3 separate regions of the Homo sapiens genome follow, and all the other regions are linked to region 1. Evidence: fine-mapped expression QTL. A gene starts in region 1. Each other region holds a variant in brackets. All regions are shown on one strand. Distances are between the middles of the regions.

Region 1 (8,532 bases):
GGGGGTGGGGGTGTGATTTAACTAAAATTAACAGAAAACTAGATGAAAAACAAGAAATTATAGATTACACGATTTGGCCAAATAATGAAACTATAGCTTTAGATTCTGAAATTTACAGTAATGACAGTGTCCTCAGGCGAGTGATGAAAATATCTAAAATGTATGATCAAACCTCTTAGAGAAATAAGAATTATAGTTAATGTATAGTATATTTCAAAAAAACTAAAAGAGAGAATTTTAAATGTTCACAGCACAAAGAAATGATAAATATTTGAGGTGATGGATATGATAATTAGCTTGATTTGGTCATTCCACAATGCATACATGTATAACAACATCACATTTTACCCCACAAATATATACCATATTATTTGTCAACTAGAAATAAGATAAAATGATTTTGAAAAACCAAAACACACTAAAAAGGAATTACCAGAAAGAGAGCATTCAGTAGGTTTGTAGTATTTGGAGAAGGCTTTCTAGAAAAAGCAGTGCTTGAAAGATTTCTGTGTTTTATGTAAGTTGAGACGAAGAATTCCCAGGCTTTCAGAACGGCATGTGTAAAAGTGTTGAGCAGGCTGGGCGCGGTGGCTCACGCCTGTAGTCCCAGCACTTTGGGAGGCCGAGGTGGGCGGATCACGAGGTCAGGAGATCGAGACCATCCTGGCTAACATGGTGAAACCTCGTCTCTACTAAAAATACAAAAAATTAGCCGGGCGTGGTGGCGGGCGCCTGTAGTTCCAGCTACTGGGGAGGCTGAGGCAGGAGAATGGAGTGAACCTGGAAGGCGGAGCTTCCAGGTGAACCGAGATGGCGCCATTGCACTCCAACCTGGGCGACAGAGCGAGACTCCGTTTCAAAAAACAAACAAACAAACAAAAAACTGTTGAGCAACAGTGCACTTGTAACACTTCTCTTGATCTTGCTTTACTATCTCAGGGACATTAACTGAGTATCTGGATCTTACATAGTGCTATTTTAGAAGCTAAAGGACAACACAAATAAAACCCCACTTAGAGAGTTTATAATCCAGTGAGGCAGAAAGAGCAGAACCGTTTTTCAATAATTTCAATATCTCATATACAGCGATGAATAATAAAAATGGTTATGAAAGTACAGAGGGGCTCCATTTATGTCAATTAATTCTGGCTTTCATGATTTTTAGTTCCTACGCAATATCTGAGTTGTAATTTTTGTCATTGTGTTGTAGGACATTTTATGTAACCACTTAAAAAAATTAAATTGCTATTTGAATAATTTCTCTTTCATCCTAACTTCTTCATATCTCCCATTACCTCATTTCAACAATTTATTCATTGCCTATTTTCATTCTTCTTGGTAGTTTTTTTCCTCCTTCTTGCCAAGAGATCATAAACAAAACAAAAGAAAACCATAGTGTATATATTTTGACCTGATCTGTGTTGGGCCTAGCAAAAAAAAAATGACTTCTCTCCTTTCCATCACTTTACAAGCATATCTTCCTGCATCCTTCCTACGTTCACGCTGGGCTCAGAGACAGAGGGTACCTTATTCTTTTTCCTAGCCAATAACTCCACTTTAGCTCCTATCAACCAGAAACACTTAGTTCAGTTCAAACTGAACTAAACTATACATATATATACGTGTATATATATATATACACACACATATATATATATACACACACACATATATACGTATATATATATACACACACACATACATATATATATACACACACACACACACACACACACATATGCAGGGAGCTGAGCTTGCTGTGTCAAGAGTCTAGGGACTCTTACTGAAAATAAAAAATGACTAATTTTAAATATCTACTACATGCCAGACAGCGTCTATCAGCAGTAACAGAAACAAACAGATAAATGCTACTAGTTGTAGAGTGTATAAGGATAGGATGTATCTAATTGATAAGGCAGAAGAGATAATAGTGTGGAGTGGCAGATTTGGAGTGTGTGCATACATGAATGTGTCTGTGTGTGTCAAGAAGAACTAGTTCCAAGAATGTTAACAGAATGTATGCTTTATAACTGTGTGAAGTTTTGATGGGTAAATGTGAGTTTATAAGGATGAAAAACAGGGGAAGTGTGCTTTTGCAGTGCCGTTGATAAAATGAGGAGAGACATGAATGAAAGAATAACATAAGCCAGTTTGTTGGATAACTACAAGAGAAGGGGTATATCGAAGTCTTAAATGTGAGGCTAGGTGCTGTGGGAAATGAAGCTAGAGAAAGCACCAGAGGTCAAATCATGAAAATCTTGAATTCCATGGACAGTGTAATGAACTTAAATTTTTGCAGAGCATCAAGAGCCAGACATTTCTAACATTTTATTCACCTTTTATTGACCACTGGAAGCAAGGAGCTTTGCTTTTAATAAATAAATCATTTTCCATCTCTTCTCATTTAATGCCAACAAAATTCCTTTCCCTCTTTAGTATCTTGTTTAGTGCCATTGGTTGCTTTTTTGAAGTCTGCAATACTCAAGTTTTACTCTAACTCAACAATAAAAGCTTCCCACAGTTTTGTATAGATATTTCCAAACAATTCATTTCAACCAGGATATATTGAATAGTTTTCATAATTAGCCTTGTGCTTTGATAGTGAGGGATACAAGACATAAGCCCTGTTTCTCTCTCAATTTCCTGCTGTATCTTTTATAAGGATAAAAATTCCTTTGGAGAACAGTCTGCTTTTGTTTATTATTCCTTCACCTTCAGTAACAATCTGAATTCTTTCCCTAATGACTCTGAAAATCCTCCAAATGATGTCACCCGTGATTTTCTACATGCCAAGTCCAAAAGTTTAATCTCAGATTTGTTTTTCTCTCCCTCATCTCAACTTTCAGCAATGTTTACCTCCTCCTCCTTGAAACTTTCTCCTTCATTAGCTTCAGTGATGGTTATTCTGTGAGGTTTTTTTTTTTCCTGTTTGTTAAACAATGGTTTTGTTCTCTGCCTTATAAATTGTGGGATTCTAGAGGAGTCTGCTTTTCTCCCAAGAAGTACCTCTTCTTTTCTTGCTTTTCATATGCTCTCCTTGAGATATCTTGGTTATTCTCATGGCTTTAAATAGCACTTATATCCAGAAGACTCATAAATCTGCAATCTAATTATGGCATCTCCAGAGTTCTGTATTTTAAAAGTTAGCAGAATCTTTAACGCTGTGGCAAAGTTTCTGGTTTTAAGCGTAAAGGTAGTAATGAGACATGAAAATACAGTGAAGCAATCAAACCTGTAATTTAGAAAAATAATTGACAGCATTTTGGAGAACAAAGCTCCTTGCTGCATGTGGTGAATAAAAAGTAAATAAAATACTGTGGCTACCCCTGAGGGACATCTCTACCCATCATCACTCAGTTACTTCAACTTCTATATGAGACAAATGGAACTCATTCTCTCGTCCCCTCCAAACCTGGCTCTTCCTCCTGCTTCATTTATCAGCAAACGACATCGAACTCTAGTAAATCATTGAATTAAAATTACTACCCACCACACACACACACATGTGTGCACACACATACCCTCCTCTTTCTCTCTCTCATCCCTTACATATAAAGATTAGTTTTTAACTGATTCTACTCCTGAAATGTAAAAGATGAGAACCTCGGGAGGTCTATATAAGAAGGCCAAGCAATTGTTAGTAGTGGGTATTTGCAGCTATTATTTCATTGCATTTTTCTTACATTGAAAAAATCTTAAGTGTTTATATTCAAGACAAGAGGGGGACTAATGAATATCCTTAGAAGGAGGCACTAAATTTCCCCCAAGCTTCTCTTTTGTGCTGCCTTCACTCTAGAATCTTTCCGACCCATCCTCTCCAATCCATATATACTTTCATTTTCTCTCTTGTGAAATAAGCTATATTCTCTCAACTAATTTTTCTGCCCACTCGGATTACAATGATGCTCCTCTTTCATTGCACTATTATAAGCTATAGCTTGTGGCTGTCTTAATCTGCTGAACTAGACCTTATAGTGTCATCAGTATTCTCCATGCTATTGTCAATGGTATGGCTATCATGTGTGACTGACCTGGGTTCAGATTCTTGCTCAAACACTAACTAGTTTTGAGACCATCTACACCATTAATAAAAATATTACTCATAGAAATAGCTACCATTTACTGGACACGTGTTCTGTGAACATTATTGTCCTCAGTGCTTTATAAGCATTATTTTAATTCTTACTATGTCATCATGTGACAAGTATTATTAGATTCACTTTAAATTCATTTTTCTGGTAAAGACACTGAGTATCAGAAGTCTGAAACATATTTGAAATCACATACAACTGGTGAAAGTCAGAGCTGAATTTTTAACTCAGGTCTTTTTAATTCCAAAGCTCGTGCTCTCAAAAACAATTGTTTTACTGAAATCTACAAGTAATATAAACTTTCTGTGACCCAGTTTCCTCATCTATAAGACAGGATATGCGCTGTGTCTAATACCAGTAGCTGGCAGGCAATGCGTTCGAAATTGGTAACTTTTCATTTTTAGTAATAGTTATTGGGCATAGAAATGAGATTCACTGACTGTGATAAATATATCAGCACACTGATTAAACCATTTGACTAAAAACAAGTTATCTAACCTATATCAGGCAGAACGAAATACCCATTCTCTACGTATTTCCTGGGAATAAATAATTCTGAAATTCTACCGTCCTCCTCAGCCCACCATACCAACATCTAATCTAATTCTGCACATTGTGAGGAAATTACTCCCTGTGGGTGAGAAAGTCCAATTCATCTAGAGTCAAGCATTTTCATTGAACAAAACAGTTTTACTTACAGAGCCCATACAGCAGTTCGGCCTGTTCCTTTCAGGCTGACTCAGAAGGCTGAGGAGGCTTTAGATTCCAGGGGAGGGCCGAGCTTGCAAATATGAGGAGACTTATTCCAGCCTGACTGGAGACAGGCACAGAGCTGAAAGGCCAATTCCTGGTGGTGGTGCTAACTCACTGTGTCTTCAGGGTGTGGAGATTCCCAGAAGACTTCTTTTGCCTCATACAGTCCTTTTATATCTGTTCCATTATGCAATTACTTACGGTGGCTATGTGCTTTATGGGCTGATGTAACCTTTTTTTCATGTGTCATTTCACTCAAAAGCTTTTTTATTTAACAGCTTTATTGTTATATCATTCACATACTATAAAATTCACCCATTTATAGTGTATGATTCAATTTTTTTTAGTAAAGTCACAGAACTGTGCAAGAACCATCATCACAATTCAATTTTAGAACATTTTTTATTACCCTTAAAAGGAACCTCATAATCACTAGCAGTCACTCTGAAGGAGATTTTAAAAAACGAAATATTGTAGCAAATTGCTAAATGACATCTCCCATTATGAGTGAGAGTCCAACTCCACCCCTTAACTCCTCAGTATCTATGATTATTCACAGCAGTATGGTTTCATTAGCCCACCTGTGGTTCTTTGCAGCAGCAGTCTTTCTCTTACAGATAAAAAATAATTCATTTACTCATCCATACATATATCCAGTAAATATTTCATAAGAATGTCCCATATTCTAAACATTATACTCAGTGATAGAGTTTTTTTTTTTAAGAATACACCATAATTCTTACTGTTTAGGATTTTAGTGTAGAAGATAGACAGGTTAACCAATAATTACATGTTAACCAATGATAAGGTTATCCTAGAGGCATGAACCAAATGCTTGGTGAATACAGTAGGTAAAAATCTTGGTTCACAACTTACTTGTGTATAAAATACGGTTTCATTTACTTTTTTATAATTTGACCTATTTCGTATTTTGAAGTCCCAACCTACCAGGTTGAAGAGAATTAGTCACAATAATTTGGGGTTCTCTCTACTTATAGTCAAATTTTGAAAATCTTGTATTATACCAAGAAAAATTGCAGGTAGGTGGGTGATTGACTTGGCCAATGATGTCACCTTCTGTCAGTTTACTATCACTCTCATTAGTCTTTAATAAATAGAATGCATAGATTGCTATAAGTTGTCCATCTTTTCTCCTTATGGCCTCTTTAGATCCTTAGATATTCCCACCAATTTGGACCACACTTGGGCATATGGGTCTTTGATTCATTCTCAGTTTCTGTCTCTTACACCCTGCATTTAATCCATTGGTAAATTATGTCAATCTCTTTGAAAAATACAATCAGAAATTGATCACTGTTTATCATCTCCAGAAATGTCACCTTTATTTAAGTCACAATTATCTCTCACTTGGGTAACTTCAGTAGTTTCCTAACCATTCTCCCTGCTTCCGATATTATCTCCTCTCCACTATCAAATCTGTTTCACTACTGAAAATGTCATGGCCTGAGATATTTTCTTCTTCATAATGTAATAAAAACAATAAATAACAAGAACAATAATATTTTATTATGCATTCTACATCCATGATACTAGGCCAAGTGTTTGTGGTAGACAGGATAATGGCCCCTAAAGATACCTATGTCTTAATGCCTGGAACCTGTGAATATGTCACCTTACATTGCAAAGGGACTTTGCAGATGTGATTAAAGTTAAATAACTTGAGATGGCAAGATTAGATGGATTAGCTGGGTGGATCCAATATAGTCACACGGGTCTTTAAAAGTAGAGAACCAGAGAGATGGCAGCATGAGAAGGATTTGATCCACTGTTGCTGGCTTTGAAGATGGCAGAAGGAGGCTACAAGCCAAGGAATGTGGAAAGCCTCCAGAAGGAGAAAAGAAGATAATTGATTTTTCCCTAGCCCCTCCATAAAGAAATGCAGCCTGGTGATTCCTTGATTTTAGCTCAGTGAGATCCATGTCAACTTTTGACTTACACAACTCTACAATAATAAATTCAGTAGAAGAATCCATTATTAGTTTGATTTATGTCTTAAACCATGTTTAAACCAAAAATTAGAGTGTAAGTAACTTACCTAAGTTTCTCAGTTATAAATGGCACAAGTAGTATTCAAAGCCTCGGCTATCTGACACCCTCTCAGTTTTCAAAACTCATTTTCTAAACAGTCTTCACATGACTATCCATTCACCACTACTTTCAATTTGAGTCATCTACACCCAAAAGCCTGCATGCATGCTGATGTGCCAAACTGAATGTTAACAGGTTGTCACTTGTGCATGCTTATTCCTTGCACATAAAGGTATTTTATTGTTGTGTTTCCGCACAGGAAACTTCTTGAGACCTTTGAAAACACTTTCTCTACCAAGTTGGGCAAATTGTAGGGCTGTGACTCTTTTCCCATTAGTCTCAGAAACTATTTGGGAATAGTCACATATTTTTATTCTTATGGTTGAAAGAATGTTACTCTTATAAGAAAAATAAAGTTACTATAGTGGTACCATGTAAATTCTGTGCCAGAGCTTAGTACATGAAAATGAAACTAGTGTGTGTACTGGTTAAAGCACCAATACACACACTGGCACACTACGTCAAAATATGGCTCTTCTCACTGCCCTATTCTCATGCCAGCCTAGCAGAACAGTAGCTGGTAATTTAACTAAACTTTCTGAAAATTTGAGTTCAATGTTCCTCCATGAAATCATACAGCAACACATCTTATTAATACATTAATATTAACTCCATTGAGTCCAGGAAACATATCATAGTCTGTGATGTCATTTGACTTCATATTAATGTTTCTGAAACTTGGTAATCCAAACAGGAAGTACCAAATTGGACATAGGAAAACTCTGCACTAGGAACTTGAAGTAAGTCTTATTTATTGACTGTCAACATTTACTACGGTAAACAGTAAAATATTCTTGGCTATCAAATCAGCAAATGTTTTTTAAAACACATAATACATAGTGTTGTGTTGCTGTGTTACAGTGGACTAAGCATTGTTTTACAATGTTTGCATGAACTTTCTGGAAGCATATTTTCCAGTATATTGTTGTCTTAAAATGTCCATAATATTCCATTTCTAAGAATTTATTGAAAGGAAGATATCAGAGATGCAGGCCATATTTTATGTACAGGAAAATTTATTGCCCCATTATTTACAGTGGTAAAAAATATAGATAAAAATTCTCAATGATACAGAATATATAAAGCATTTATATCGAGTCCTGGGATGTTATGCAACCTTTAAAATTTGTGCATATACCAGCTCAAGTGGATGGTCATGCTTGATCAGGAAATAGAAAAACAAGTTTCAGGGCTAAGACTAGCACAAGGAGCAAACAGTTTAAGATATAAAAGAAACAGGGTTTGATACAGGAGCAAGAGGCCAGAGGCAAAACAGGTAATCCAGGGTTAATGCATTGAAATTGTAGAAATAAACTTAAAAGAGAACAAACAATAACAACAGCAACGAAAACGGGTTGCTGTGTGTTACTGTTTGAATATGTCTCCCATGTTGGAAATTTAATTCCCAAAGTCATATCTTGATTAGATATGAAGACTTTGGGAGATAAGTTGGATCAGATAAGGTCATCATGATGGGACTGGTGGATTTATAAGAAGAAAAAGAGATCTGGGCTGACACAAATGCCCTTGCCCTTTTGCCATGTGATGCCCTCCACCATGTAATGGCAGCACAAAACCT
Region 2 (8,532 bases), 51 kb after region 1:
CACAGACTCACTCTACCTTACCACCTAATTTGTTTTTGTATTTTTTTTAGAGATAATGTGTTGCCCAGGCTGGTCTGAAACTCCTGGACTCAAGTGATCCTCCTGCCTTGGCCTCCAAAATGCTGGGATTAAAAGTGTGAGCCACCGTGCCTAGCAGGACTATTCTTACTCCCCATGTCTATTTCTACTCTTCAGGGATACTATAATTTAAATATTTTATCTTAGAAATCTCAACTAGGTTTCACACTGACCGTATTTCCTTGATTTTTTTCCAGAATTTTATTGTTTATGGACATTTTCAGAATGAAGGTTCAGCACATTAGAAAGAATCTCTAGTTTTTTAAAAAATTTAAGCTGCCTTAAATAATAAAATACTAGGACATTTCCTATTGTAAATTCTTAATTCAAAGGCAATTCAACAGCATTTTGTGTTTTTATGTCTGCTACAATTTTCTTTTAGAAATATATTCTCTTTTAAAGACAATTCTCTTCCTGCAAAATGAGTCAACATAAATCGTCTAACGTTAATGCATGACCATTGTCTCTTGGATGCCCCTGTACTTACATTCAGTGAAGAGGATGAGGAAGAGGCAGGGCTCTGAGGTCCAATTCAGCTCCCAGAATAGAGGATATTTATGAGGAACTCAGCCCTATGAGGATCATTTACCTCGCCCCACAAAAAAACTTATTCTTAAGGGATCTTTCTGATAAATTGTATTTGCTTGTTTTGCCTTTGTGCTTTGGAGTCATTCTGCATGCCCAAATCTACTTATTCTCCCGTGTGGTTTCTTTTCTTCTTTAAAAAAATTTTATTAGATTTATTAAGGGACAATTGCTAAAAATTATATATATGTGCAGTGTAGAGTGTGATGTTTTGATATACATATACATTGTGAAATGATTATCACAATGAAGGTTATTAACCTATCTATGACCTTCCATAATCACCTCTTCTTCTTTATATTTTGTGATAAGAAGATTTAATATGCAGTCTCTTATCAAAGACAGTATGCAATACAATATAATTAATATAGTCTCCATGCTATACATCAGATCTCCAGAATTTATTATACATAGTTTCATGTATTGCAATTACTGAGATGTTTCTTTTTTGACTTGCTATGACTTATTAAAATTCGATGTTATGAAAATTATAAATTTTGACTAATATAAAAAGTGTACACATATAGTTTTCTTACCTCCTTTGGGAAGGAAACCACTGAAGCCACTTGATATTCTTGGTTTCACACCCGGTTGTTCCACCAAAATAAATATTTTTCTTCCCCACAGACAAAGATCAAAACGAATATGTTTTAGATTTGGAATAATAAACAACAAAGAAATATACGGTTGCATTTGTAGCTCAGTGGCTTCCCAGACTGGCTGAGTATCAGGTATACTTTGGAAATCTTACTATAAATACAAATTCTCAGGCCTCATCCCAGAACTAGTAAAACAAAATATTCAGATGCTAGGGCCCAGAATCCTGCATTTTAATAGACTTTGTTAGATAAGTTTTAGGTTCACAGCAAAATTTAGCAGAAAGTACAGAATTCCCATATATGCCTCCCAGCGCCACATGCACATCCTACCCCTCCATAATATCTCCCAGTGGAGTGGTACATTTGTACGTTCGTCACTATCTATGAGGCAACATTGACAAGAAATTATCACCACTAATCCAGTTTAAATTATGGTTTACTGTTGGTGTTGTATGTTCTATGGATTTGATGCATGTGTAATGATACATACCTTCCATTGTAGTGTCATGCAGAATAGTTCCATTGCCCTAAAAAGTCCTCTGTGCTCTGTCTATTCTCCTATATCTCCCTCCCCACTCCTGGAAACCATTGATTTTTATAATATCTCCAAAGTTTTGCCTTTTCCAGGATGTCATATAGTTGGAGTTATACAGTATACAGTCCTTTCAAAATGTTTTTCCACCTAGTAGTAAGTATTTAAGTTTCTTTAATGTCTTTTCATGGCTTGATAGCTAATTTTAATGCCGAATAATATTCCCTGGTAGAGATGTATCAGGAATCCAAATTTTTAACAAGATCCTCAAGCAATAATTATGTGTTTGGCCTTGTACTATAGTTGTTATGTATTCAGACTATGGATTAACCTTTGGAAAACACTTCATAGACAAGTGATGCCATTATCAAAATTTGAATGCCAATTAAAATTTTCATAGTCAATCTTATGTTCCCATTGACTTGCATTATCATTTCGAGTATTTTCTCACATTATTAATTCTCACTTTTAGTGATTTCTATCATTTTAGTGTTCTTTCTTCCTATTTCTATGTCAAGTAGTTTTTGATTTTATACCATGGTTGCAGTAAAGTAGAATTACTGGTTAAAGTTCTTGTAATAGGAATTATCCAATAGTTGTGTTCTTTATTGAGATTTCTTGAAAGAAGGTAAATCTATATAGTAAATATTTTTTAAATTATATCTTTGCAAATTATATTCCTCACTAGGCATTAAGTATTCTTAAGGCAAGAAGCTAGTCTTGTTCATGTTTGTATTCTCAATATCCATCTCACTACTTGATTTACAGTAGGCGCTAAATACATGCTGTTGTTAAAGATGAATAAGAATATAAATTGGGGCCGGGCATGGTGGCTCACGCCTGTAATCCCAGTACTTTGGGAGGCTGGTGGGTGGATCACGAGGTCAGGAGTTTGAGACCAGCCGGGCCAACAAGGTGAAACCCCGTCTCTGCTAAAAATACAAAAATTAGCCGGGTTTGGTGGTGGGCACCTGTAATCCCAGTTACTCGGGAGGCAGAGGCAGGAGAATCACTTGAACCAGAGAGGTGGAGGTTGCAGTGAGCTGAGATTGTGCCATTGCACTCCAGCCTGGGCAACAAGAGTAAGTCTCTGTCACACACACACACACACACACACACACACACACACACACACACACAAAGGCTATACATTGGAATAATGTTCTTGGTCTCAGTTCTTAAGGCCACAAAACTTTGAGCTGGATGTTTAGTGTTGTAAAATGTGACACATTTTATCCTTATTTGTAAAAAATGAATGTTTGAAGTAGGGTAGGGTGAACCAGACTGCCAAATCCCAGGTCATTGATCCTGGCAATAAGCTAGAGTAATTGCGGTAGGGTTCTTAGTAACTGGTTGATGCAAGTGGACCCTGAGGAAGTAATCCTTAGATATAGCATTCTACAGCATTTCTATGTCTAAACGAAGTAGCAGTCAGAATGAGCTTACCAAATAGATATGACAGAGGTATAGAGAATTAGCCAGTAGGGTTTGAAACCACAGAGGGCTAATAGCTGGGAAAGTGTTGAACAGAAAATATGAAGGGACAGTGAGATCCATAGGAATTCTGGGTAATGAGCAAGTTTCTTTAGTTGGTTTTATGCAGTATTTAAATAACAGGAAAAGTGTCCTTAAGAAACTCTGTTACTATCTGAAATACAAAGGATAAAATTTGTTTTAAATTTTATTTTTCCATATCTATGCATATAAATATAAAAAGAAAGGATAAAAATCAAAACTGTGCAATGGTTACCTCTATAGAGAAGTCAGAAAGAGAGTGGGTTTGGGGGAATATAGCAAGGTAGATGTTGGCCTTTTCTAAAATATATTTCATTAATGAGAACTTTTTTTTGTATATTAATATTTCATTAAAAACCTTTTAAAGAGGTCTTTATGTTTTATGGAAAACAGAAGGAGGAAAAAGGTAAGATTGGAGACCTAGAGAACTCTAAGGAAACTGATTTAGGCAAAGGATTTTGATGCCTAAACTGAGACCAAAAGTGAAGATAAGATATTTTGGTGTTAAAATAGGCAACATAAGAAAACCTCTGGCATACAGCAAAAACAGTACTGAGAGAGAGTTTTATAGCATTAAATGCCTGCATCAAAAGAATAGAAAGATCACAAGTTAACCTAACATCATACATCAAGAAACTAGAAAAACAAGAACAAATGGAACCAAAGCTAGCAGGAGAAAATAAATTACAAAGATCTGAGCAGAACTAAATGGAATTAATACCAAAAGAACAATACAAACAATCAACAAAATTAAAAGGTGGTTCTTTGAAAAAATAAAAAAACTGATAGACAACTAGCTAGACTAACCAACAAAAGAAGAGAGGAAATTCAAATAAGTACACTCAGAAATGAAAAAGGAGACATTACAATTGATATCATAGAAATACAAAAGATCATCACAAACTACTATGAGCAACTCTACACTCACAAACTAGAAATCCTCAAGGAAATGAATACATTCCTGGAAATATAACCTCCAAAGACTGAACCAGAAAGAAATAGAAAACCGAACAGACTAATATCGATTAGTAAGATTGAATCAGTAATAAAAAATCTTACAAATAAGAAAAATCCAGAACCAGATGGATTAACAGCCAAATTCTACCAGACACAGAAAGAAGAGTTGGTACCAATCCAACTAAAACTGTTCCAAAAAATCAAGGAGGGGGGAATTACCCCTAACTCATTTTATGCAGACTGTATCACCAATACCAAAGCCAGGCATGTACACACATGAAAATAAAACTACAGATAAATATCCCTGATGAATATAGATGCAAAAATTCTTAACAAAATACTAGCAAACTGAATCAAACAGCACATCAAAAAAAAAAAAAAACACAACAATGAAG[C/A]GGGTTTTATTCCACAGATTCAAGGATGTCGCAACGTAGGCAAATCAGTAAGTATGATTCACCACATAAGCAGACTTTTTTTAAAAAAAATATGATCACGGCAATAGTTGCAGAATAAGCAATTGATAAAATTCAGCATGAGTTCGTGAAAAAAACCCTCAAGAAACTAGGCATAGAAGGAACATACCTGAAAATGATAAAAGCCACGTATGACAAACCTGCAGCCAACATCATATTGAATGGGGAAAAGTTGAAAACATTTTCTCTAAGAACTGAAACAAGGCAAGGATGCCTACTTTCACCACTTTTATTCAAAATAGTACTGGAAGTCCTAGTCAGAGCAATCAGGCAAGAGAAAAAATGAAATGCATCAAAATTGGAAAAGAGGAAATCAAATTATCTCTATTTGATGATGATATGATCATATACCTAGAAAATTCTAAAGACTCCACCAAAAGACTCCTAGATTTGATAAATACATTCAGTAAAGTTTCAGGATACAAAATCAACATACAAAAATCAGTAGCATTTCTAAATAACAATAGCTATCTAGCTGAGAACCAAATTAAGAACTCAACCTCATTTATAATAGCTACAAAGAATATGTAGGAATTCATTTAATCGAGGAGGTGAAAGATCTCTTCAAGGAAAACTACAAAATGCTGAGGAAAAAAATGTAGATGATACAAACAAATGGAAAAATATCCCATAATCATGGATCAAAAAATCAGGATTGTTAAAATGACCATACTGCCAAAGCAATCTGCAGATTCAATGTAATACCTAACAAATTACAAAAATCATTTTTTTCACAGAATTAAAAAAAAATCTAAAATTCTTATAAAAAAGGAGCCTGAATAGCCAAAAGAATCCTAAGCAAAAAGAACAAAGTTGTAGGCATCACATTACTTGACTTCAAATTGTACTACAAGGCTATAGTAAGCAAAAGAGCATAGTACTGGTATAAAAATAGACACATTGACCAATTAAACAGATTAGAGAACCCAGAAATAAAGCCACATATCTACAGCCGGCTGATCTGTGACAGTGTTGACAAAAACATACACTGGGGAAAGGACAGAAACCCTATTAAATAAATGGTGCTGGGAAAATTGGATTGCCAATATGCAGAATGAATCTGGACACCTATCTCTCACCATATACAAAATTTAACTCAAGATGGAATAAAGACTCAAATGTAAGACCTGAATTTATAAAAACACTAGAAGAAAAGCTAGGAAAAACTTTTATGGACATTTGCCTTGGCAAGGAGTTCATGACTAAGACCTCAAAAGCAAATGCAACAGAAACAAAAATAGATAAAGGGGACTTAATTAAACTATGAAGCTTCTGCCCAGCAAAAGAAATTAATCAACAGAGTGAACAGATAACTTGCAGAAGGGGAGAAAATATTTACCAATTGTGCATCTAACAAATGACTAATATTCAGAATCTACGAGGAATTCAAACATCTCAACAACAACCAATAACAAATAACTATTAAAACGTGGGCAAAGGACATTAACAGACAGTTTTCTAAAGAAGACATACAAATGGCCAACAAGCTTATGAAAATTGCTCAACACCACTAATCATCAGAGAAGTGCAGATTAAAACCACAATGGATACCTATCAGAAGGGCTATTATTAAAATGTCAAAAAATAACAGATGTTTGTGAGGATGTGGAGAAAAGAGAACATTTACACACTGTTGGTGGGAATGTAAATTACCAGTACCTCTATGGAAAACTACTTGGCTATTTCTCAAGGAACTAAAAATTGAACTACTATTTGAGCTGGCAATTCCACTACTGAGTAGTTTCCCAAGGGAACATAAATTATTATATATTTTTAAAACCTGTATTCATGTGTTTATCACAGTACTCTTCACAATAGTAAAATATGGAATAACTGTAAGTGTCCAACAGTGGATGACTGGATAAAGAAAACGTGGTGAGTGTATACCATGGAATCATACTCAGTCATAAAAAAGAATGAAGTGATGTTTTTTGCAGTAACATTGATGGGACTAGAGGACATTATCTTAAATGAAATAACTCAGAAACAGAAAGTAAAATACTGCATGTTCTCACTTATAAGTAGGGGATAAATAATGTGCACATATGGCCGTTTAGAGTGAAATAATAGACATTGGTAACTGGGAAGGGTAGGAGGGTGGAAGTGGGATAGGGGAGGAGAAATGATTTAATGGGTGTAAGGTACTCTATTTGTATGACGCCTATACTAAAAGCCCAGACTTCAGCACTATGCAATATATCCATGTAACAAAACTTTGCCCCCTAAATCTATTTTTTTTTAAAGAATAGACAAGAAATACAGATTTATTGGATGTGGGACCAAACGGGGACAACTTTCTGAGACCTAAAGTTCCATAATAGCCATTCAACTATGCAGTTTGGAAAGTTAGAACTATGATCAATTACCAGATAATATAGGCAGAAAAATTTTACTCAGTTGAAAGAGAAATTTCTTGTGTTACACATGTCAAGTATTGAATCAAGGGAGTTATCACTGGAATTGTTTAGATAGATTATTCGATAGGTTTTTCTGTATAGTTCAATTCAACAACTATCAATAAGTATCTACTATGTGAAAGGTGTTCTGCTGAGTATTACAGAGCCTTCAAATAAAATCAAGACTTTTTATTTAGGAAATGTACAGTCTTGTGAAAGCTATAATAATGTACACACAGGTGTGCACACATATAAAGGCAAAACTGATATGAACAAAGCAATATGAAAATTATGAGGAGAGAACAAATATCACTGGAGCAATCATAAAATATTTAATGAGGAAGATATTTAAAGATGAGCCTTGAAACCTAAGTAGAACTTCACAGTGAAGTGGATGTTAAAGTTGAAGTGGAGTCAACAGTAAAGTCCACCATGAAAAAACTGCATGCATTTGAAGAAGTCGTAAGCAGACTGGCATTTTTAGACTGTAGAGTATGGGAAAAGAGAAAAAAGTGAATGAAACTTTAAAGAAAGTTTAAGCCTAAATTGTTGAGGAAATTACCATAGACAGGATTTGCTGCTTCATTTAGTTGGTGCATATGAAATAAAAATAAAATATATATTTATTTGTTTCTTTTTAAAATGTTCTTAGGGCTGGATATTTGGAATCTTAATTCAAAGTGAATCATGTGATTGTTGAGCAGAAACAGCATAGAAGCATTAATTCAGTTAGTCATCTGTTGGAACAAGGTAACTAAGATAGTGAGAATCTGAATTAGTATTTTGATGGTAGAAAAGAGATTGCTTAGCAATGATAATTACATTGTGGAGACATTTGAATTGGATGGCATTTAGTTTCACTCAACTCTAAAATTGCATGCATGGGTTTATAATTCCAATTTGTGGTAAATTTTCTAGACTTTGAAATAAGCCTTTATAGGAGTAGTACATGTTAAATATGAATTCCCTTGGAACATACAAATTTGAGCACAGCTTTCTGAATCTGCTTTGTTTTCACACTGTAGATGATGGGGGATTCATCACAGAGGGGATGAGCAAGTATACGTTAGCAATGGGGGTGGGCACATAGGGTGGGGCATGTTTTCCAAATCTGTGAACAAAGGACAGGCTGATCAAAGGGATGTAGAATATGCCAACAGCAGTGATATGAGAAATGCAGGTGCTGAAGGCCTTCTTCCTCTCCTCTGGGGATGCAATGCTGAGACCTGAGCGAATGATCAGCAGATAGGAGAGCAAGATAAAGATGGAGTCCACTCCGGCAGTAGAGATGATTGCACTTAATCGTAGTGCACTGTTGATCTTTGTGTCTGAACATGAGAGTTTCATCACATCAGGGTGGAAACAGTAGGAGTGGCAGAGCACGTGGCTGCGGCATA
Region 3 (8,532 bases), 49 kb before region 1:
GTGAGTGCAGGAGGCCAGGGGCATGTCCAGGTGCATGGGTTACTTGCAGCTAGGGGTCTCCTGTTAGACTTGCTGAGTGCATGAGAAGCCAGGCTGTGAAGAACCAGAAGTGGGAGATGTGTAGGAAGCCCCTGACTCAAAGGACAGGCAGCCTTAGTGATCTCTAGGTTTGTGTGCTGAACAGAAAGCATGTGGGTGCTGGAGGTAGCCTAAGGGTAGTTTTCAAGCAGTTTTTCAGTGATTAGTTTACTAGTATGCCCATCTGGAGGCTGGCAGGGGCTGATGTGAATGAGGACAGAGGACAGAGGACAGGCTGGGCTGGGGTTAGACTGGGGCTGCATTGGGGTTGGGTCGGGGTTTGGTGTGTGAACAGGGTGAACGTGGTTGAAGCTCAGTCTATGACTGGGGATGAGGCTGCAGCTGGGGTGGAAGTGGGGCTCTGAGTGAGGTTGGTTTCACTGTATGCTGTACATCAGGAGTCAGGCTGTGGCTGAGACTGGGACTTAGTAATCTTCCTGGGGCTCCGATCTCAGCTTGGTCTGTGTCTAGGATCAGGATTCAGTCTTCAGCCCATTTAAAAAGTAGATTAGTGTCCACACGGCAACACCCCTTGCCTTGTACTCTTTACCCTAGCTACACTAAGTCACTTTCAGCTTTCCAAACAAGGTCTGTTCTCTTTCTCTCTGGCTCTTTGTATTAGCCAGGATGTATTTTTAAAAACAAACTAGATAAGTTCTGTTGCTGAAATTCCCCCAAGTCACTCAGAATTAAACCAAAGCTCCTTGCCATACCCTGCAAGACCCTGTTACCTGATGAGGTCCTTGCCTTCCTCCCGCCTCATCTTCTCAAACTCTGTTGTGCTCTTGATGCTCTGGCCACCTTGACCTTCCTTTTGTTCCATGAATCCCCCAATATCATTCTTGCTGGGGGACGCTTTTCTCTTGCTGTCTCCCACAGTTGGAATGCACTTTCCCTGGATCTTAGAATGGCTGGTGTTTTCTCATCACATGTCACATCCTTAAGAGAGGCTTTTTCTGACCCCTGTCTCCAGTATGAGTGTCCTGCACCCATCTTCCTCTGTCCTATCACTCTTTCTTTCGTGCCCTTATCTTCAACTGAAATTTTATTTGTTTACTTCTCATTATTGGCCTCGTGTTATATGAGCTCCATAAAAGCCATCATCTTGTCTGATTTATCTACTGTTTCATCTCCAGTTTTTGACACTCAATATGTTTTTGTTGTCTAACCGAATGCTGCTGTGCCCCACCCCATTAACTGCCTGTGTCACTGCCCCATTACCTGCCTGCAGCAGGTCCCGCCACTGCCATGGCTTAAATGTCACCTCCTCAGGGAAGCCCTTGGAACCTAAAAAGCTTGCTGAGCTATTGTTGTCTTTGCTTCTGAGGCCCTTTTGCTTCCCCTTGTCCCAGAATTTATCATAATGTGCTGTGATGGCTGCATATTTGTCTCAATTTCTCCCCATCCTTGGAAGGCTGGAACGATATCTCTGGTACTCAGTGGAGTCTGGCACAGAAGTCCGTCAATGATTATTGAAAAAATGAGTACACTGATCAAAATCCCACTTTGGGCATTTCCCTTGCCTTACATTTGCTTGCAGCCAGAATAGCTCTACAGGGAACTGGTAACTAGGTGCAGCTTTGCAGATCTTTAGAACACTTATCTGGTCCTACTCAGGAAGTGGAGGAGCAGAGACCTGAAACCTAGGAACTCTGCCTAGGGGTGATTTTAGGTGGTCAGGCTGACTTGAGTGACCAGGGTGGGGTGAGGGCTCACTTGGCTTTTTGGGAGTTAGAAGTTGCTCTCTCTCATCTTTCCATTTTCATCTTGGCCATTTTAAGAAGAGTGACCAACACCTTGCAAGGGTTCATCTGCTTTATTAAATACAAGCAAGGTGTGGGGCACAGTGGATGCAGATAATTTGAGTGGAAGTCATGCTGGGGCTACTACCCTCACTAAGTGTTAGGGAAGGGACTCTATTTAAGAATCAAGTGACAAGCTCCTCCAGTCCTTGCCAGCCACAGCATTGCCCCTGAGGTCTGCCTTCCCTCTCTGTGCCTGGGATGAGGAGCCAGAGGCTCCCAGGTATGTCTGGGCTTCTCTCCAGGGACATTCTTTTCTAAATATTCCCAGAGGCTGACAGCAGCGCCAGAGGCCCTCACTCCATTGCTCTGGGCATGAAACATTCTGTGTGTTTAGCCCAGATAGTGACACTGACAATGAATCTCCTCCTGGTTCTCCTTCCACACTGAACCTAAGTGGGGAGAGCTGGTCATGTGTCCTGAGTCCGAGAGGGGCCCCTGGACTCATGGGTCATCAGTGTTGGATTCCTGAGAGATTAATATTGAAATAGTGCTTACAAAGCGAAGTCCCTTCTTAAGGAGACATGGGGAGGGGTAGGGCAGTAGCTTGGCCTACTGTAAAGCAATGGATTTAGCACTAAGGGCTCTAACTAACCCTCAACATCCTTATCTGTCAAATGGGATTAATGATATCTGCTTGACAGGTGGATGAGAGGCTCTAATTAGATAATAAGGAAATACGTGGTAGAGGACAAGCCTTTTAATCTCCATTGTGGGGCCTACCCACCTCACAGCCTTTGGAGTTAGGGCTGAAAGAGGAGGTGAGTGTCCCAAGTTCCAGTGCAGAAGAGTCTTCTTTGCAGCCCTCTTGGTTTCCCTTCTAAGAGTATACCCAGGGCAGCTGTGCTACTTACCAAGCCCTTCTTATACCTTGCCTTTTGGGTGGATTTTATTAGCTTTCAGAAGGTGCAGCAAAATTAAAGGCAGCCTAGAATGAGGGAAAGTGTATAGGCCTTGGTATGAGACTATCTAGGTTAAGTTTCTGCATTACCAGTCACCTGTTAAACTTTGGTTATGTTATTTAATGTCTTGGAGCCTCAGTTTTCTCACCCATAATATAGAAAGGATCCATAGTATTCACCCATAATATAGAGAGGATCCATGGTGCAGCAAGAAGGGATGTTGATGACTTTGGCCCCTTTGCCTGAAGTTCTAGGTTAAATCGGTTTCTCTGCCTTAAACTTTCCCTCCCAGCAGATTGAATTAAACACCCTCACCTTCTGCAGAGCTGTTCCCAGATTAGAGATAATATTTATACAGATGGCACTGTATAGTTTCTGTCATTTTGTAGGTGCTCAATAATCTATGTTCATATTATAAAAACAACAAAATCAGGGTTAAAGGTGACCTCATTGTTCTCTTGGGTCAGAAGAGATAGGGCTAATAGGCTAATGGTACACCTTTGGAGTACCATCTCACTAAGTTCTAATTACTAACAGCTGCTCAAGCTGGAAGGCCATCTGGAAGTCTTCTGTCCCTCTGCCTGTCTTGTGGAGGGACTATGGAACATTGGGATGCTTCAGGGCTGGCCAGTCTGAAGGGTGGCACTTGGGCCCTCTGGCTGGCTTCCTCTCCATCCCTTCATTTCTCTCCTGCTGTCTGGTTTATCTCTCTGACTGCTTTTTCACGGGTCTATGAGAAGGAGTTCTAGGGAAGAATGTGAGGATGGGCTGGTGAGGGGGGCTGGGCTGGCATTAGGAGACAGAGTTCTGAAGCCCG[G/A]GGGAAGGAAGGGAGAGGACTGAAGGCCTCCACGTGGATTTCCAGTCTTTACAGCTGGGAGCTCCTGTTCCCCTATTCCTGAGAAAAGGTTAAGATGTCCTTCATAGTTCCTGAAGAAACATTCCTGGAACTTGCTAAGATAGTTCAACTTATTCACAGAAAATCTCAGCACAGGGCTATTCCTTGGGGATTAGAGCAGTGTGTGAGCTTTCTAAAAAAAAAATGCTTTGTTAGTTTATTTTTTCTTGATTGTGCCTTATTTTCAAAATAATTTAGTTCCAAGTTCCTCCAGAGCTCAAAACCATCTCACTGAGTTTTAATTACTAACAGCTGCTCAAGCTGGAAGGCCACCTGGAAGTCATCTGGTCACTCTGCCTGTCTCGTGGAGGGACTGTTGAACATTGGGACGCTTCAGGGCTGGCCAGTCTGAACGGTGGCACTTGAGCTCTCTGGCTGGCTCCTTCTCCATCCATTCATTTCTCTCCTGCTGTAGTCTTCTGGGGTCCAGGCTGATATTTTAGCCCCAGCGATAGCTGCCCATTTTATACTGCCTAGGCACCTCCTTCCCAGGCCAGCTAAATCTTCCTTTTGTTGATTTCTGGTATCTTTGTATCAGTGCCCAGTCTTGCTATTGTGAGAAATTGACTGCTAGTAAATATGTGTGTGTATGAGTGTGTACATACAGGCCAAGTGGTGATTAAGGTGACAAATTTGGGGAATTGAAAAGTATATGAAATTTCATACATTTTCAGAGACCTTGTTGCCCATTTTTGTGGAAAACAATGCACTATGTGTACTCCGATTTGGTTTTTACAATTTCTTTAGACATGCCTTATCTCATACAATTTCACAGCAGCACTATGCAGTTATTATTATTCACTGCATTTATTTAGCGCCAAGACTTGTGTTCTAAGCCCCAGGATTCTGCTCACCACATCACTCTACCTTCAGAGGCAATAGTGTTGCATATGCCCAGCCAGAGTTCTTTCCCAGTGTGTTTCCTAAGACAGCACATTTTTTAAATCCTGAGTATCAACCTGCTCTGCCATATCTGTTTATGTAAAACTGATGGATAGCATGGATATCTGACCCTCTGGAGTACCAGAACCTTCTTGCCAGTGTTTCCAGGTGAGGGATCTTAGGTCTATCCTGCTCTTAGGCACAAATTGTGCTGCATGTCCACTTTGCATTTATTAGGACCAAGACCTTGCAGCTGCTCTGTTTTTTTTAATACATATTTCTCTGGCCCTCCAGCTCCTTTGGTAAGAAAGGACTTTTCTGTTTGACCCTAAAGATTATTTTTACAAAATTAAAATTACTCTGCACTGACCTTCCAAACATCATCTCATCCTTCTCAAAAGTCTCTCTAGTACAGATAACAGGCAGTCTTAACTATGCCCTTGGCTGTGTTACCCTCACTAGATGTATACTAAGAGACTCTCCTGTTGATAAAACTCATTTTCATCTTCCAAAACATTAACTAAACAATTAATAAATATAATAAGGTTCCTGGTGTTCAGGAGCTCATAATTCAGGGGAAAATATAGCAATAATTATAGTTACTATTATCAAGAGGGTAAATACTTTAAAAAGACCTAAATAATGTTCTTTTTGAGCACAGAACAGTAAGCATTTAATTATGCCTAGGTAAAAAAGGCTTAGGAAAAATAGTATAGGAGAGAGACAGTAAGCCAGGATGTGAACAATGAGTGTGGGAAGTCAAGGAGGAAGATCTGGGAGGAACAGTTTTTCTTGACAAGGGGATGAGAAGTAAAAAAAGACAGAAAGACACAGAGTCATGGGAATCAAGGCTATGTTTGTGAAATAGCATGAACTTCAATGTGGCTAGATCATAGGGATCATGGTGAGGAGTGGTGAGGGAGGAACCCAGGCCCGGATGATGAAAGTCAGATCTTTAGCCATGTCATAAGAAGTTTAGTCTTTATTCTAGAATCAATTTGGAGTTTCAAGGGTATTTTTTAAAATAATAGGGAGCGAGCTGGTTTCATCTGGTTAGATTGTTGGGACTTTGTGGATGAGGAAGGTTACCCTAGAGACGTGGCAGTCAGGATCAGAGAACCTGGCTTGTATGATGGTTCACGCCACCATAACAGAAAAAAAGAAACACTGGAGGAAAATGGTTAACAGCAACAGATATTATTTTTGGCATACTTACTATGTGTGAGGTATTGTGTTAAGTGCTTTACATTTATCATCTCATTTAATCTTCACACTGACCCCCTATTAGCCAGGGACTCTTATAATCATTTTAATGATGAGGATGCTGAGGCTTAGAAAGGTTAAATGATTTACCCCAGATCATACAGCTCTAGAGGTTTTAGACTGGGTTTAGAATGCATGATTGATTTCAAAGATCATAGTTTCAATGGCTATATAATACTGCCTCTGAAAGAGTTTGTTTTTTGAACATGGAGAGTTTGATGTAGTTGAAAGACAATTAGGTGAACCCTTTTAGTAAGTCTTCCGAATTATGAACCTGGATTACAAAAGAGAATTCAGGGTTCATTAACTAGGTTTGGGGATCAATTGTTTGTATAACAAAAATGGATTTACTGAAGGGGATGAGATGGCCCAGGAAGAGAATATAGAACAGGAAGAGCACTGAAGATGCAATTTTGGAGAGGAGAGTGAAGATCCAGAAACGAAACCAATAATTAGTGATTAGAGAGAGCCGAGGAACAGCAGAAAGGAGAGGGAGAAGCTCTAAGAAGGAGGAAAGTGCTCCTGGTGCCACATGCTGCAGAGAAGCTGCAGCAGCGAGAAGGGACATTGATGACTTCGGCCCTTTGCCTGAAGTTCTAGCTTAAATATGGTTTCTCTGCCTTAAAACTTCCCTTCCCAGCAGATTGAATTAAACTCTCTCACCCTCTGTTCTACTATTCATGCTCCCATTGTTTTCCCACTAATTTCTATCTGGTCTGAGGAAACCTCTGGGTGACCGCTTGATGCTGGTACAAAGATTTGTGACACACCCTGAGCCCATGGGACCTCTTCTGATGCTGGCCATGAATTCTGACTTATGCTCAGCTGCTTTCTGGTAACCAGTGCAGAAACCCCTATCCCAGCTCTCAAACATTCAAGGGCCAAATCTATGTAAAAACTACAATACACATGATCTAATAAATACAGGTTGAGTACCCCTAATCCAAACATCCAAAATCTGAAATGCTCCAAAATCTGAAACTTTTGGAGCACCAACATGATGCTCAAAGAGAATGCTCACTGCAGCATTTCAAATTTCAGATTTTTGCATTAGGGATGCTGATCTGGGTATGTATAATGCAAATATTCAAAAAAAAAAATCCCAAATCGGAAACACTTCTGGTTTCAAGCATTGAAGATAAGGGCTACCCTATAGTAGGAGCACATGAATATTTGTCGATGGAGGAAAGAAAGGGAGGGAGGGAGGGAATCAGTTCACTCTTAACAGACACATACAATCTGAGATGACCCAAGTCTGACATTTTCCACCTCAGTAATATCAAATCATTTTTATAGTCAGATTCAGTTTGTTTGCAGACTGAATTCTGCTATAGGATTGATTATGCCTCCAGTGCTTCTAATGCCATCACCCCTCAGGGTTAGTATTCTAGTTGTATCAATCTCACTTTCTTAGATTGGGTGGGTCTCCTAGAAGCAGAACCTGAGGTGGGGGTTCTTGTCCAAATGACATATTGAGGGAGTACATGGCCATGAGAAGAAGAAGGAGGGAATCCTGGTAGGGCAGGGGAAGAAAGCTAAGCAGGGCTGTGGTCTCAGCTGGAGACAAGCCTCAGGCTGGTTCCTTGGGAAGCTCTGAAGTACAAATTGCATCAAAGTGTTTGTTGCACCCAGAGGCAATGGGGCTCACCTTTGGTACCCCTTATGTCAGGCAGCCACTGGCCTCTAGATGTGCATCATGGGGGCACAGTGTAACCTTCCTGGGTGAGGTGCCTCCCATTTGACCAAGGACAATCCTCTGGAAAGAAGGGGAGCTGTGAGCCCTTAGCACTCAATGCTCAGTGCAGATGGGAGATGGTTACATTGGCTTTGTGAATGGGGTCTGGCTGGGATACGAACGGTATCCACTAGAGCCATCATTCTTTATTTGAAATAAACTGAGTAGTCTGGACAAGTGTAAAGCTTTGGGTGGTCATTTGGACAAGAAGGTAATGTAGAGTTAGAGTTCAGGATTAATTTAGTGTCAGTTTTTTATTGGATTACGGTTTATCATAATAAAATAGAATATGAATTGTGACTTGAATATCATCAATTCGATCTTTAAGATTGAAATGGTTATTAAAAGGTCAAATATTAAGTTATGTTAAAGTTAGGGTTAAGTCTAGAATTGGGGAGATCATTAGATTAATGCTGGGGTTAGGTTTCAGTATTAATCTGTTACTACTAGTGTTGTTACACTTGGACTGGAATTTTTTCTTAAAGATAGTCTAATGATATGCTTAGAATTGCAGTTAGTATTAAGCATAGGGAAGCATAAAGGTAAGCTAGGATAGAGGAAATGGTGAGATATTTTTATCACCTAAGATTCTTTTATATTCAGCCAGTAGCCTTTCTTTGGAGAACTAAATGGTTTGGCATATGCTTAAAATTTTTGTCTTAGTCTTTCACTTGCTGTCAGGATTAACAATACAGATGGGGTTAGTAAGTAGGACTGGATGAATTTGTGTCTGGTTCTTGAATTATGTTAGATTATGTGAGATTGCATTTAGAATATGATTAGAATTTGCATAAGGAATGGATTTAGAGTTTGAGTTAGAGAACAGTACATCAGGATAGAGTCAGGTGTTAGGTATTGGGATGCTTATGGATCTGACAGTGGCTTATCTTTGCATTCCAGCCTCTACCTGCCTGGTGCTGGTCACAGTTCAGCTTCTTCATGATGGTGGATCCCAATGGCAATGAATCCAGTGCT

Which allele goes with the higher level. Positions count from the first base shown, and alleles are read on the strand shown. Sizes are in standard deviations (SD) of each study's normalised expression.
In carriers of allele A in region 2, the expression in prefrontal cortex of the gene that starts at base 4,990 in region 1 tends to be higher than with C alone (large effect, 0.92 SD a copy in BrainSeq).
With allele G in place of A in region 3, the expression in fibroblasts of the gene that starts at base 4,990 in region 1 is lower (moderate effect, 0.41 SD a copy in GENCORD).

Evidence for each region. PIP is the estimated chance that this variant, and not a neighbour inherited with it, causes the effect. A credible set is the group of variants that fine-mapping cannot tell apart.
Region 2: its variant is the best candidate, but not a certain one, in a credible set for the expression of OR51E2 in prefrontal cortex (BrainSeq, PIP 0.51).
Region 3: its variant is the best candidate, but not a certain one, in a credible set for the expression of OR51E2 in fibroblasts (GENCORD, PIP 0.51).

What each region holds. Positions count from the first base shown.
Region 1 is chr11:4,692,864-4,701,395 of GRCh38, forward strand. OR51E2 (olfactory receptor family 51 subfamily E member 2) reads right to left here and starts at 4,990. Exons shown (of 2, transcript NM_030774.4): 1 at 4,790-4,990. OR51C1 (olfactory receptor family 51 subfamily C member 1) reads right to left here and starts at 4,990. Exons shown (of 2, transcript NM_001396051.1): 1 at 4,790-4,990. The coding sequence starts at 4,798.
Region 2 is chr11:4,743,944-4,752,475 of GRCh38, forward strand. All of the region lies in intron 1 of MMP26 (matrix metallopeptidase 26), which reads left to right. It also overlaps the pseudogene OR51F4P. Among named protein-coding and RNA genes, the nearest start is that of OR51F1, 22 kb to the right of the region's middle. The variant C/A (reference allele first, on the strand shown) is at 4,662.
Region 3 is chr11:4,644,031-4,652,562 of GRCh38, forward strand. It overlaps OR51E1 (olfactory receptor family 51 subfamily E member 1), which reads left to right. Exons shown (of 2, transcript NM_152430.4): 2 at 8,458-8,532. The coding sequence starts at 8,497. Among named protein-coding and RNA genes, the nearest start is that of OR51E1, 4.3 kb to the left of the region's middle. The variant G/A (reference allele first, on the strand shown) is at 3,600.